Homo sapiens: one gene and its partner. The protein of the gene in region 2 binds, or shares a complex with, the protein of the main gene of each other region. Each region holds a gene or a part of one and is shown on either strand. Other genes may lie near its edges. A codon is read from its position in the direction of its gene.

Region 1 (7,579 bases), on a different chromosome or scaffold from region 2:
CAGCAGTCAGGTCTGGCCTCCATGGTATTGTTCTGCTTGTGTGACCTCCAGCAAGCTTGCTCCAGCAAGCAACTTACTTCTTAAATCCTCAGCTTGCTCATCTGTAAAACAGGATTAGTCAGGGGGCTAACCCTATTTTACAGATGCGGAAGCTAAAGCACACAAAAGTGACAGGTGCAGGGCCACACAAAAAGCAGCAGACAGCAGGCAAACCTAAGCTGTCTTACTTTTTTTTGAGATGGAGTCTCACTCTGTTGCCCAGGCTGGAGGACAGTGGCACAATCTCAGCTCATGCAACCTCCGCCTCCTGGGTTCAAGCGATTCTCCTGCCTCAGCCTCCTGAGTAGCTGGGATTACAGGCACCCGCCACTACACCCAGCTAATTTTTGTATTTTTAGTAGAGACGGGGTTTTGCCATGTTGGCCAGGCTGGTCTTGAACTCCTGACCTCAAGTGATCCACCCACCTCAGCCTCCCAAAGTGCTGAGATTACAGGCATGAGCCACCTTGCCCGGCCTGTCTTACTCTTAAACACTCATTAATCTCCCTCTGCTGGTAGGGGCTGTGTCTGTTTTCTTTACTCTCAAATGCCAAGCACACTGCTTTGCACATAGTAGGTGTCAACAAACTTGTTTATATATATATATATATATATATATATATATATACACATACATACACACACAGTCACATTCCAGTGTGACAAATACTCCTTCACCAGGAGACAGCGCTACCACTCCGGGATCTTGAAGACTCTCTACAGAGAGCCTAGGCCTGGCAGTCTTCACAGATGACACCCAACAGGGAGCACGTTTATTAAAGTGGGAAGGGGTGGGGTACACCCCAGGGTGTATACTGACAGGGACCTCATGCAGGCCCAGAGCTCTGCTGCACCCTCTTCATCAGCTCTTCATCCTGCATAGACAACTCTGTCAACTTTTTGCCCATCCGCTCATGGATGTCCAGGTACTTAGAGACACATCGGTCCAGGCACACAGACTCGCCCTTGGAGAGCTCTGCTTCCTTGTAGTGAGGAGGCACACACTTCCGGTGGCAGGCACTGGTCATTCTGGAGGGAGGGAGGGGCAAGGTCATGTCAGCAGCATCCTGTGACATCCCAGGAACCTTGACCATTCCAGCCCTGCTATATTGATTTCACCTCCCCCAAGAAAGCAGTGTAAATCCTCAGTTTACACCTCAACCACTGGAAGGTCCTTGCAAGTAGGAAACTTGTCTAAGTCCATGTATATGACTAACTAAGTAGAAACCATTTGTTGAGGACTGGCTACATGCCAGGCATCCTGCTAAGTGCTTTACCTGCATTCTGTTATGCAATGCTTACAATAACCCTAAGAGACATGTATCCCCATTTTACAGATGAGGAAATTAAGGCAAACAGAGGCTCAGTAATTTTCTAAGGATCACACAGAGCTGGGTTATGAAGCCAGGTCATCTGACCTCACAGTCTACACTTAAAAATCCTTCTAATTTATAGCCTTCAGGATAAACCAACCAATCAAGAGAGCTTAAGCCAATAAAAATAGCAGACATTTCACTAAGTGTTGGGCTTGAGGCTAAGGGCTTTCATATATTTTTAGATTTAATATTTATGATGTCCTATGAGGTAGGTATCATTATGTCTTCTTCATAATGAGGAAACCAATTGTCAAACAGTGCAAGTAACATGTCCAATTATACTGCTGGTGATTGGTGGAGCCAGGATTTGTTCCCAAATTTGCCAAATGGTTATGAGCACTAGTTGCAGAATCAGACTGAGGTGCTAGTTCTGGCATTGTTACTGACCAGCTGCCGACCCTAAGGAAGTTACTTAACCTCTAGAATCATCAATTTCCTCATTTTAAGACGGGACTAATAAAATTAACCCACTGGATTATTTTGAAGATTAACAAGTGCCTGACACAGAATAAAGGGTTTTAAAATGTTAACTACTAAATGGGCTGGCTATGTGCTATTTGTCAAGAGGCAAATACTCAGCTTTTCTTGGAACCTAACCAGAGCCTGGATTGGAGTTTCTCTTCCTGCTTGGCTCCTGCATTGCCAGTTCCATCCCCATCTAAATGCCCAACTCATTCTAGTGACCCTTTACTGCATCTACATTAGGATCAACCTTGAAGGTGGGTGTGGGGAGGGTAAGCATGGGCCTCAGGCTCCCCTACATTCAGGAAGGAATTTGTCATAAGTCATTCACCTTCGATAAGGGTGACCAAGACTTATTTTCCAAGACAGGGTAGCACATAGTTCTCTTTACCTGTTGTACATATCGGCCATCATCTCCACCTCCAGCTCCGCAGCCAGCTGTTGGGCCCTGAGAGGATCCATCTCAGCCTAGCACCGTGGAAGGGATCTCCTTCTGGCCTCCTAATCCTGGGAGCAGACATCACCATCAGCACCCACCGCCGCCGTTCACTCTCCTACCCCTGGGGCTAGAGGATACAGAGGACTCACAGGGCGCCAGACCACCACGGGCCACTAACCTCAGTGAGCTTAACCACCCCATTTCACGGATGTGGAAACTGAGGCCTAGCCCAAGGTCGCACAGGACGTCTATGGCGAGCCTGGAAATCGAGCCCCGGATCTCTGATGCCCCAGTTCCTGGAGGTCACCTCTATTCAGGAGATCGAGGACCGGAGGAGAACTCTCTAACCCACGAACCTGAACCTCCAGGGCCCTGGGAATGGGATCATACGCTGAACAGAGGCGACCGGGACCCAGCCCAAAGGCTACACCTCTGAAATGGCGACGCCATCATCAGGGCCACATTGAATTCAGAGGTCATGTGTCACTTACCACTGCCTGGGACGGATCACAATGCCCACGGAGACCCCAACTTCTGACAAATACTATAACGTTACCCGCCTCCCGAGAGGCTCCAGCGGAAGCACGTGGGTTACTTCCGGGAGGAAAGTCCCGCCTCTTCTTTGATTCAAACTCGCTTCCGGAATTAAATACCAACGAGACGGCGCCGGGAACTCGGCGATCATAGAGAGGGAGCGGCTGGCGCCGGGCGAAGAGGAAGGCGACTTGCCAGTGCTAGAGAGGACACCAAAGTACCATAGAAGCTTGGGCGGGGTGCAGAGCGTCTGCAGCCCGATCAGAATTCAAGTCCTTTGGGATGTCACCGAGCGGCTTCAGTTTATTGGTTCTGTAGGAAGAGGCGTGGCGACAGACACCTGTGAACCTCACCCCCGTTCCAGACAGCCGACTCCTGTGCGCAAATCAGGCGTGGAGAAGGAAGAACGCCCCCAAACAGCGGTTCTGTTTTTGTTTCGCGTTAAAATCACCTGGAACGTTTTTAAACATCCCAGTGCCCAGGACTCACCTCATTTCAATTAAATCAGAATCTCTGGGAGTACAGTTTAAAATTCCTCAGGCAGCAATACAATTTAAAATTCCCCAGGTGATTCGTATGTACAGCCAAATTTGAGAAGCAGTGCTCCACGGGACGTTGTGCGATTACTGCTGTGTGTAGGTCACACTAAGCCCCGTCTGGGGTTGCAAAGATAAGCGAGATAGGCTTCCTGTTCGCAGAAAGACAAGACGTGTAAAATATGTTTTCTTCAACAGTTAGAGGTCCTCAGCCACAAAGAGATAATAAAAGCAATTTCGGCTGCCACCAGGGCTAATCTTGGGTGAGGGAAAGAAGGGTACTGGTGAACTTTCCAACTTTCAAGACTTAATGTGTTCTTCAAACTGCACCATTCACTCATTCCCCACTAAAAAGAAGGAAACAAGGAAACAATACTCAGTCCCTTGATTTGTCACACAATTTCCTGGTAAAATAAATTTACAAGATGTAAATTAATGACGCAAGGGCACATTGCCCATTGGAAAAGGTGGGCTAGACATTTTCTGTGTGGTCATCATAAGCTTCCCTAATTGTCCAAGACCATCCTAATTTTAAACAATTGACCTTTCTACTGCTTTGAAGACTCATCTTTGCCAAACTTGTGCCCTGATTTTTAAAGATTGGGGTATAACATTCATAAAGTGCATAAAATACACGAATGTTAAGCTTAATTAAATATATATGTATCTATATATGTACATTTGTATAACCGCCATCCAGATCAAGATATAAAATACTTCCTGCACCCCAAAAAGTTATCTTGTGTTCCTTCCCCATCAATACCCCCTCTCGAAGTTAACCACTATTCTGACCTCTATCACCATCAATTAGTTTTCCTTGTTCTTGAACTTCGTGTAAATGGAATTATACATTATTTTCTATTTTGTGCCTGACTTCTTTAGCTCAATGTACCTGTAAGATTTCCTCCATATTGTTGTGTGCATCTGTTATTCCTTCTGTTTTATTGCTGTCTAGTGTTTGATTGTATGAGTATGCCACAATTCATCTATCCATTCTCCCGTTGGTGGATGTTTGGATTGTTTCCAGTTTTTGCCTATTATGCAATAATGCTGCTATGATACTCTTGTACAGATGGACATATCTTGCCTTGGTTTTTGCCTTTGAAAATATAGTCAACATTGGCCGGGTGCAGTGGCTCACGCCTGTAATCCCAGCACTTTGGGAGGCTGAGGTGGGTGGATCACCTGAGGTCAGGAGTTCGAGACCAGCCTGGCCAACTTGGTGAAACCCCATCTCTACTAAAAATACAAAAAAGTAGCCCGGTGTGGTGACGGGTGCTTGTAATCCCAGCTACTCAAGAGGCTAAGCAGGAGGCTAAGGCAGGAGAAACACTTGAACCCGGGAGGCAGAGGTTGCAGTGAGCCAAGATCGCACCATTGCACTCCAGCCTGGGCAACAAGAGTGAAACTCCGACCCCCCACTCCCCGCAAAAAAGAAACATTATGGAAAGTTAAGAAACTGCGTGGGAAAAGGAGATGGTTTCTTACAAGAGGAATCTTGCAATATCTACTGGGCCTTATGAAAGGTTGCATACTGTATGATTTCATTTAAGTAACATTCTCAAAATCACAAAATTATAGAGATGGAGAAGAGATTTCTGATTGTCTAGTGTTAGGGTTGATGGGGAGATAGAAGTGTACCTGTAAAGGGTAGCACAAGAGAGATCTTTGTGTTGATGGATAATTCTGTATCCTGATTGTGGTGGTGGTTACAAGAATCTACACAGGTGATAAGATGTCATAGAACTGGCAGGGTGCGGTGGCTCACGCCTGTAATCCCAGCACTGTGGGAGGCCCAGGCGAGCGAATCACAAGGTAGGAGTTCGAGACCAGCCTTGTTGGTGAAACTCCGTCTCTACTAAAAATACAAAAAATTAGCTGGGGGTAGTGGCGGGCACCTGTAACCCCAGCTACTCAGGAGCCTGAGGCAGGAGAATCGTTTGAACCCGGGAGGTGGAGGTTGCAGTGAGCCGAGATCGTGCCACTGCACTCCAGCCCAGGCGACAGAGTGAGACTCCGTCTCAAAAAAAAAAAAAAAGCCAGGCGCGGTGGCTCACACCTGTAATCCCAACACTTTGGGAGGCCGAGGCGGGTGGATCACGAGGTCAGGAGATCGAGACCATCCTGGTTAACATGGTGAAACCCCGTCTCTACTAAAATAAAAAAAATCAGCCGGGTGTGGTGGCATGCGCCTATAGTCCCAGCTACTCAGGAGGGCGAGACAGGAGAATCGCTTGAACCCGGGAGGCGGGAGGCAGAAGTTGCAGTGAGCCGAGATTGTGCCACTGCACTCCAGCTTGGGCGACAGAGCAAGACTCGGTCTAAAAAAAAAAAAGAAAGAAAAAAAAAGTCATAGAACTACTACACACACACATTGTACCAATATAAATTATCTGGCTTTGATATTGAATATAGTTATGTTAGATTTAACCTTTAGTGGAAGTTGGTAAAGGGCGTACAGGACCTCTCTGTACTATTAATGCAACTTCCTGTGAAACTATAATTATTTCTAAATAAAAAGTTTTAAAAATCTCTACAAAAAAGAAAACAAATAAGATTATACAAGTATGAGTAAGAGCTGGCCATAAAGAAAGAAAGAAAAATATTTATATAAAAGATTGTGTAAGTAAAGTACCTAGTCCATGGTAGATGCTCAATAAAAATAAATCATTGTTTTCATTCTTTTTCATTTTTAAACTTTCACTGGGGCAAATTTATTTTTATTTTTACTTAGGATTTTTGAGGCAGGATCTTGCCTTGTCACCCAGGCTTGAGTGCAATGGTATGATCAGTGCTCACTGCAATCGTGAACTCCTTGGCTTAAGCAATCCTCTTACCTCAGCCTCCTAAGTAGCTGGAACTAGAGGCATGAGCCACCATGCCTGGCTAATTTTTTTTTTTAAGAGATAGGGTCTCATCATGTTTCCCAGGCTGGTTTCAAACTCCTGGGCTCAAACAATCCTCCTGTCTTGGCCTCTCAAAGTGCTGGGATTACAGGCATGAGCCACCCCATGCCCAGATGGAATATTTAAAACATACAGAAAAGCAGAGAGAACAGGACATTGAGCTTCCATATATTCATCACCAGGACTTAGGAATTGTTAACATTTGTCCATATTTTCTTCATCTATTTTTATCTCTAACAGATAAAGCCCTTTTATTTATTTATTTTTTCCTTGAGACAGGGTCTCTGTCGCTCAGCCTGGAGTGCAGAGACCCAATCATAGCTCACTGTTAGCTTAAACTCCTGGGCTCAAGCAATCCTCCCATCTCAGCCTCCTGAATAGCTAGGACTACAGGCGCAAGCCACCATGCCTGAGTGGTTTTTAAAATTTTTTGTAGAGATAGGGTCTTGCTATGTTGTCCAGGCTGGTTTCAAACTCCTGGCCTCAAGCGATCCTCCTGCCTCAGCCTCCCAAAGCACTGGCATTACAGGCATGAGTCACTGCACTGGGCCCTGCTTAACAAAAAAAATTTTTTTAAACGGAGTCTCGCTCTGTCACCAGACTGGAGGATAGTGGCACGATCTCCGCTCACTACAGCCTCTGCCTCCCAGGTTCAAGGGATTCTCCTGACTCAGCCTCCCAAGTAGCTGGGACTACAGGCGCATGCCACCACACCCAGCTAATTTTTGTGTTTTTAGTAGAGATGGGGTTTCACCATGTTGGCCAGGATGGTCTCAGTCTCCTGACCTCATGATCCACCTGCCTTGGCCTCCCAAAGTGCTTTATACACCGCGCCCGGCCAACAAATTTTTAAGTGCACAAAATAGTATTGTTAACTATATGTACCATATTGTACACAGATTTCTAGAACTTATTCATCTTGCATAACTGAAATTGTATACCCATTGAACAGCAACTCTCCATCTCCCCAGCTGCTCAGCCTCTGGAAAACCATTGCTCTTATTGATGATGATGCTATTGTTATTATGATTATTTACTATGAGACTGTGTCTTTCCTCTATGTGGAGACCTACAGGTAGGAATCTCCAATGGTCCCAGTTGAATTGCTTCTTGTAGAAGACAGTTTAGATAGCCTCAGACTTTGAAGATATCCTTAGACTCCAGATATGTCATCCAAAGCTACTGATCTCTGTCAACACCATGCTGAAACTCTGGCTCCTCATTCTACCCTGCATTCTACCCCTTCCCAACCTTGCAAAGGTGAGTTGTATATTTGTCATTCATCGT
Region 2 (6,949 bases):
GATTCAGAGAGAAAAGCTAAGAGCCACTCCACCCTCACATAATCCACCTCACATAATCCACCCTCACATAATCCACCCTCACATAATCCACCTCACATAATCCACCTCACATAATCCACCCTCACATAATCCACCCCTCACATAATCCACCTCACATAATCCACCCACACTCACATAATCCACCTCACATAATCCACCCTCACATAATCCACCCTCACATAATCCACCTCACATAATCCACCCTCACATAATCCACCCTCACATAATCCACCCTCACATAATCCACCTCACATAATCCACCCTCACATAATCCACCCTCACATAATCCACTCTCACATAATCCGCCTCACATAATCCACCCTCAAATAATCCACCCTCGCATAATCCACACTCACATAATCCACCTCACATAATCCACCTCGCATAATCCACCTCGCATAATCCACCCACCCTCACATAATCCACCTCGCATAATCCACCCTCACATAATCCACCCTCACATAATCCACACTCACATAATCCACCTCACATAATCCACCTCACATAATCCACCTCACATAATCCACCCTCACATAATCCACCTCACATAATCCACCCTCACATAATCCACCTCACATAATCCACCCCTCACATAATCCACCTCACATAATCCACCTCACATAATCCACCCCTCACATAACCCACCCTCACATAATCCACCTCACATAATCCGCCCTCACATAATCCACCCTCACATAATCCACCCTCACGTAATCCACCTCACATAATCCACCTCGCATAATCCACCCACCCTCACATAATCCACACTCACATAATCCACCTCACATAATCCACCTCACATAATCCACCCTCACATAATCCACCTCACATAATCCACCCTCACATAATCCACCTCACATAATCCACCCTCACATAATTCACCCTCACATAATCCACCTCACATAATCCACCCTCACATAATCCACCCTCACATAATCCACCCTCACATAATCCACCCTCACATAATCCACCCACATTCACATAATCCACCTCACATAATCCACCTCACATAATCCACCCTCACATAATCCACCCCTCACATAATCCACCCTCACATAATCCACCTCACATAATCCACCCTCACATAAGACTGTGCAGCTGTCTGGTCTCCATTTCTGCCGGGTGGGGTATTCCATCCTCATCTCGGGCAACATGTCCCAAAAGTATGGTTTCCAGTATGGCTCCTTAGGTCCCACCCATTTCTTCTCTGGGACCCCAAAGACCCAACCCCCACCTTTTTTTTCTTTTTTTTGACACGGAGTCTCCGTCTGTCTCCAGGCCGGAGTACAGTGGCACCATCTCGGCTCACTGCAAGCTCCGCCTCGTGGGTTCAAGCGATTCTGCTGCCTCAGCCTCCTGAGTAGCTGGGACTACAGGGGTGCAGCCACTATGCCTAGCTAATTTTTGTATTTTTAGCAGAGACAGGGTTTCATCATGTTGGCCAGGATGGTCTCGATCTCTTGACCTTGCTTCAGCCTCCCAAAGTGCTGAGATTACAGGTGTGAGCCACCGCGCCCAGCCAAGACCCTTAAAAGAAGGACACTTCACTTCCTCTTACAACTCAGACATACCTGTGAGGCTCCTGGGCTATGGAACACCCCAGCCCTTTCGCAGCCCTTGATGGAAATTGTTTTTCAGCCCTCTGAATAAAATGACCACTGTTTACTTAATCTTTTTTTTTTCTTTTTTTTGAGACAGGGTCTCGTTCCCTCGTCCATGCTGGAGTGCAGTGGCACGATCATGACTCACTGCAGTCTCAACTTCCCAGACTCAAGCAATTTTCCTGCCTCAGCCTCCCAAAGTGCTGGGATTACAGGTGTGAGCCACCATGCCCAGCAGAGGAATCTTTTCCGATCAACATCTTCTGAGAGTCCCTGGCCCAAGTAGGCAGATGCTTGCTACGGCACTGCCTTCAGGCCATTAGCAAAAAGTGTGCTTAAATGCCCAGAGGTGTTCCCAGGCCACGTTTTGTTCATACGAGGAGTACAAAATGATGCCAAAGTGTTAGCATTCTTGGGACTGAAAACCTCTCTCCAACATCCCCTAGGATTTTCCTGGATATGACCAGAAATCCATTCCCAATTTCTCTGCCTCCAGGCCCCAATTCTGGTTTCCTCAAAGAGGAGGAAGTGTTCTTGGTTCCCAAAATATGCTTGCAGTGCAGTGGTATAATGGTAAATGTTTAACAACAATAACAAAAAGGCCCTAACTGGCCGGGCGCAGTGACTCACGCCTGGAATCCAAGCACTTTGGGAGGCCGAGGTGGGTGGGTCACCTGAGGTCAGGAGTTTGAGACCAGCCTGGCCAACATGGTGAAACCTTGTCTCTACTAAAAATACAAAAATTAGCCGGGCATGGTGGCATGTGCCTGTAATCCCAGCTAGTCGGGAGGCTGAGGCAGGAGAATCGCTCAAACCCGGGAGGTGCAGGTTGCAGTGAGCGGAGATTGCACCACTGCACTCCAACCTGGGTGACAGAGCAAGACTCTGTCTCAAAAGAGTAATTTTAAAAAGTAAGGCAACAAATTATCAGGAGTTTTTGAGCTGGTTGTTAAGCACAGTTATTATTAAAAATTACATTCTATACATTTATAATAAATTACACTAAAAATAGGTAATATGTGCTCAAAACTCATCCCCTCCTAAAAATTTTACTACACTGTACTCCTATCTATGCTGTTGAGGTTATTTCCATAGATTGTATCTGTGTGATAGAAACACCATGTAACCACATGCTGCTGTACGTCTTCCCAATTCTGACTGATGACCTCGCTTGGTAGTTTGAAATCAGCCATGATGGGGATATTAACACCACACAAGTCAGCAAATGCTGTCAGTTAGGATTTTTTTTTTTTTTTTTTTTTTTTTGAGACGGAGTCTTGCTCTTGTCGCCCAGGCTGGAGTGCGATGGTGCGATCTTGGCTCACTGCAACCTCCACCTCCCGGGTTTAAGAGATTCTCCTGTCTCAGCCTCCCGAGTAACTGAGATTACAGGCGCCTGCCGCCACCTGGCTAATTTTTATATTTTTAGTAGAGACGGGGTTTCCTGCTTCAGCCTCCTAAGTAGCTGAGAATACAGGCGTGCACCACCATGCCCAGCTAATTTTTTTATTTTTTATTTTTTTAATTTTTAGTAGAGATGGGGTTTCACCATGTTTGTCAGACTGGTCTCGAACTCCTGACCTCGTGATCCACCGGCCTCGGCCTCCCACAGTGCTGGATGACAGGCGTGAGCCCCCGCGCCCGGTCCGTGCATTTACAGCACAAGTTCACGCTTATCTACAAAGCATCCACCTCTCACCGCACCTTCCGGGACCACGGGATTTAACGCCTCACCGCCCGATGACAGCACGAGGTGGAAAGGGCAGCGACAATGCTCGCGCGTCCCCTCCCGGCGATCCGGAGCACGGCAGCCCCGGAGCGCGCGGCCACTCCTCGCTCCCCTCAGGAGCTCGTAAGAGCCCCGCGCGGGGCCGAGGCGCGAGAGCACGCGCAACGCTTCCTGGGAAATGTAGTTGGGTGTCGGATTAGAACTACAAATCCCGGTACTCACCGCGCTGCAGCCCCGACCGTGAGGGCGCTTTCTGGTGAATCTGAATCTCGTTTGTCTGTGACATGGGGAAAGCTGTCCAAGCCCAATTCCATTTTCACAAGAGGCTTTCTTTTTGGAAACATGATAGCGGTCTCGCTGGTGTGCGCACCAGGAGCGTTGCGGCCGCGGCTTCCTCCTGCGGCGAATCTGCCGTTGCATCACAGTGGCTAGTCTCAGGGCCCGCAACGTGACGCTTGTCGAATCTGCTGCGGGGAGAAGGACGCGAGGGTTGCTTGGGCAGCGACTGTCATGGCGGCGGCCGCCCCCAATGCCGGAGGCTCGGCCCCTGAGACAGCGGGTTCCGCCGAAGCTCCGCTGCAGTACAGCCTGCTCCTGCAGTACCTGGTGGGTGACAAGCGTCAGCCCCGGCTCCTGGAGCCTGGGAGCCTGGGCGGGATCCCAAGTCCAGCCAAGAGTGAGGAGCAGAAGATGATCGAGAAGGCGATGGAAAGCTGCGCTTTCAAGGCTGCGCTGGCCTGCGTGGGAGGTGAGGCCGGGCGATGGGACCCTTGGGAGGCTGAGGGCCTGGACGGCAGTGGGGATCTCTGCCGAGAAGACCACGCGCCTGGGAGGCGAGGGACTGCGGGCCTTGACCTTGACCACACCCTCGCCTCGTTCGTGAATCGGGCGTCACCTCTCCTGCCCCCTCAGGCCGGCTTTCCTGATGAAAATTGGGTTAGAGAATCGGTGCTGTGGTTGGGGCCTGAAAGTTATTACATGACATCCTGGCTAACACGGTGAAACCCCGTCTCTACTAAAAATACAAAAAATTAGCTGGACGTGGTGGTGGGCGCCTGTAGTCCCAGCTATTCGGGAGGTTGAGGCAGGAGAATCGCTTGAACCCAGGAGGCGGAGCTTGCAGTGAGCCGAGATGTGCCACTGCTCTCCAGCCTGGGCGACAGAGCGAGACTCCGTCTCAAAAACAACAACAAAAAGTTATTACGTGGGTGACTTCATTCATCCGTTCATTCCCTTAAATTCATTCTCTTAAATAATTCTTTCAACAAATTGTTCCTAAGCAATATCACGTGCCAGGTGAAAGAGACAAGAGCCTGGTCTTCATGGGGCCTGTATTATACTATGTGGAGAAGAATGTTGAGCAGGAACACTGCAGAGGAAGGATGCAGACATATGGAAATGCACATGCAGACGACTCTAGGGCAGCAGTTGTTTGAGGTTTGAAAAACTGAAAGACCATTGTGACTAGACAGCCCCGAGCAAGGAGAGACGAAGTCTGCACTTGTCCTTCTGTTTTTCCCTTAAGTTGAAGGGGAGGTGCCCATGATTTTATTAAACTCATATTGACCATGAGGTCATGAGAGGGCATCCATCTGGACATGTCCAGCCGGCTCAGGAAGGACAGATGTGGCAGCAGTGTGGGATTTGCCATTAGGTAGCTGTGTGGCCTTGGGAGAAGTTGCTTAACCTCTCTGAGCCTCAGTTTATAGAAAGGAGAGGCTAATAGCATCTGTCTCACTGGATTATTGTGAAGAATGAATGAGGCTGTGGCATACTGGCATGTGCTCAGTAAAGCATTACTGTGAATGTCACAGTGGCCAAGAGAGTGATTTGCAAAGTTGATAGCTGAAGTTGAGGGTGGCTGGTTTACATATGAGAGAATGTAGAGAGAATAGAGGGTTAAAGATGGAATCTTGAGAAATGTTAGGGAATGACAGGAGGAAGAAATCTTAGAGACGGAGAAGATGATGTCAGTAACATAGACCCTGGATTGCAAGTCTCCAGGCAAGTGGAGAGTTTGAGTGGCAAGAGGGGGGTGTCCTCTGCACCGGTGGTCATCCAAAAGCATGGTCCCTTCCAGGATGATCCCAATAGAGTAATGCAGAAAACATGCCAAAGACACCTTCATCTCTGTGTTTGCTTCTAGGATTTGTCTTAGGAGGTGCATTTGGGGTGTTTACCGCTGGCATCGATACCAACGTGGGCTTTGACCCTAAGGATCCTTACCGTACACCGACTGCAAAAGAAGTGCTGAAAGACATGGGGCAGAGAGGAATGTCCTATGCCAAAAATTTCGCCATTGTGGGAGCCATGTTTTCTTGTACTGAGTGTTTGATAGAATCTGTAAGTGTCTCTGCCTTCTAAGAAATCCTTGCTGGGGCCACCATTTCATTACTTTTAAAGAGAAATTGCTCTTTAAAAGTCATTTGAAAGTTGTTACTAGAAAGCAAATCAGAAGCATCAGATACATTCTAGGTTGAACTTCCATAAAATAGTCCCTGTGGCAGACTTTGTGTGTGTTTACAGTATGGGCTTGCATTATTTTTTACTTTTTGTAGGCTAGAAGTTAGCTAATGATTTTAAACGAGACTTATTGGAGAGCCCCTTGAAGAAATTTTGATTACATTCCAAATGCTGGGCTTGGTTTCAGCACTCTGGTGCCACCTGCAGGAAGCATCTATGAACGCATACTATATATATATATATATATATATATATATATATATACACGCTGTATACTTAGGAACTATATTTTCAAGAAAGATTAGGTTTCCTTTGGGTAGGGACTGAATGAGCTAACGAGCAACCCTGTGTATTCCTCCTTAATGGTCTGCCTTGGCTTGTTTCTTTGGCTCTAACGTGTACTTCCCTGCCCACAGTACCGGGGAACATCAGACTGGAAGAACAGTGTCATCAGTGGCTGCATCACGGGAGGAGCTATTGGTTTCAGAGGTTAGTAAACGGCTCTCGAATGCTTTTTCTTTGTGGCCTTGGACAACGTGCTGAGGTTGTCATTTCCAAACACACGAGTGTTCCAGGGACACTTGATCTTCTTCCCTCTGACAAATAAATCATGTTTGTTTCTGTGGTAACTCGGTTTTGGAAACTTGTAGGATCTAGATGAGGGTTTCCCATCGTTGGCACTACTGACATTTCGACCAGACGAATCTTTGTCGGGATTGGGTCTGTTTTGTGCATTCTAAGACGTTGAGCAGTATCCCTGGCCTCTACCCACGAGATGCAAGTAGCACCCCCGTCCGTTGTAACAACTTTTTTTTTTTTAAAGAGACCGAATCTCACTCTGTCGCCCAGGCTGGAGTGCAGTGGCACGATGTCAGCTCACTGCAACCTCCACCTCCTGGGTTCAAGCGATTCCCCTGCCTCAGCTTCCCAGGTAGCTGGGATTACAGGCACCCGCCACCATGCTCAGCTAATTTTTATTTTTTTAGTAGAGATCAATTTCACCTGGTCTCGAACTCCTGACCTCGTGATCTGCCTGCCTCAGCCTCCCAAAGTGCTGGGATTACAGGCATGAGCCACCACGTGTGGCCAACATTTTTCTCAGTAATTCTAGACAATT

What was found.
Region 1: the proteins of TIMM22 (region 2) and TIMM10 are in contact, whole or in part, in a cryo-EM structure (PDB 7CGP), measured with the Homo sapiens proteins. Residues at the interface, in NP_037469.2 of Homo sapiens: Tyr25 (codon at 3,952), Ser26 (codon at 3,955), Leu28 (codon at 3,961), Leu29 (codon at 3,964), Gln30 (codon at 3,967), Tyr31 (codon at 3,970), Leu32 (codon at 3,973), Val33 (codon at 3,976), Arg40 (codon at 3,997), Leu42 (codon at 4,003), Leu47 (codon at 4,018), Gly48 (codon at 4,021), Glu67 (codon at 4,078), Glu144 (codon at 5,707), Ser145 (codon at 5,710), Tyr146 (codon at 6,249), Gly148 (codon at 6,255), Ser150 (codon at 6,261); in NP_036588.1 of Homo sapiens: Pro3 (codon at 2,333), Ala6 (codon at 2,324), Gln7 (codon at 2,321), Leu9 (codon at 2,315), Ala10 (codon at 2,312), Ala11 (codon at 2,309), Leu13 (codon at 2,303), Glu14 (codon at 2,300), Val15 (codon at 2,297), Met17 (codon at 2,291), Met18 (codon at 2,288), Ala19 (codon at 2,285), Tyr22 (codon at 2,276), Ser44 (codon at 1,010), Lys45 (codon at 1,007), Gly46 (codon at 1,004), Glu47 (codon at 1,001), Arg53 (codon at 983), His62 (codon at 956), Glu63 (codon at 953), Gly66 (codon at 944), Leu69 (codon at 935), Thr70 (codon at 932), Ser73 (codon at 923), Met74 (codon at 920).

Annotation. Positions count from the first base shown.
Region 1 is NC_000011.10:57,527,851-57,535,429, forward strand, and holds TIMM10 (mitochondrial import inner membrane translocase subunit Tim10), read right to left. Parts: upstream 2,905-7,579; 5' UTR 2,808-2,904; intron 2,444-2,807; exon of another isoform or gene 2,385-2,443; 5' UTR 2,340-2,384; coding exon 2,269-2,339; intron 1,069-2,268; coding exon 867-1,068; 3' UTR 614-866; downstream 1-613.
Region 2 is NC_000017.11:993,264-1,000,212, forward strand, and holds the start of TIMM22 (mitochondrial import inner membrane translocase subunit Tim22), read left to right. Parts: upstream 1-3,865; 5' UTR 3,866-3,879; coding exon 3,880-4,117; intron 4,118-5,515; coding exon 5,516-5,712; intron 5,713-6,248; coding exon 6,249-6,321; intron 6,322-6,949. UniProt on the Homo sapiens protein: Essential core component of the TIM22 complex, a complex that mediates the import and insertion of multi-pass transmembrane proteins into the mitochondrial inner membrane. In the TIM22 complex, it constitutes the voltage-activated and signal-gated channel.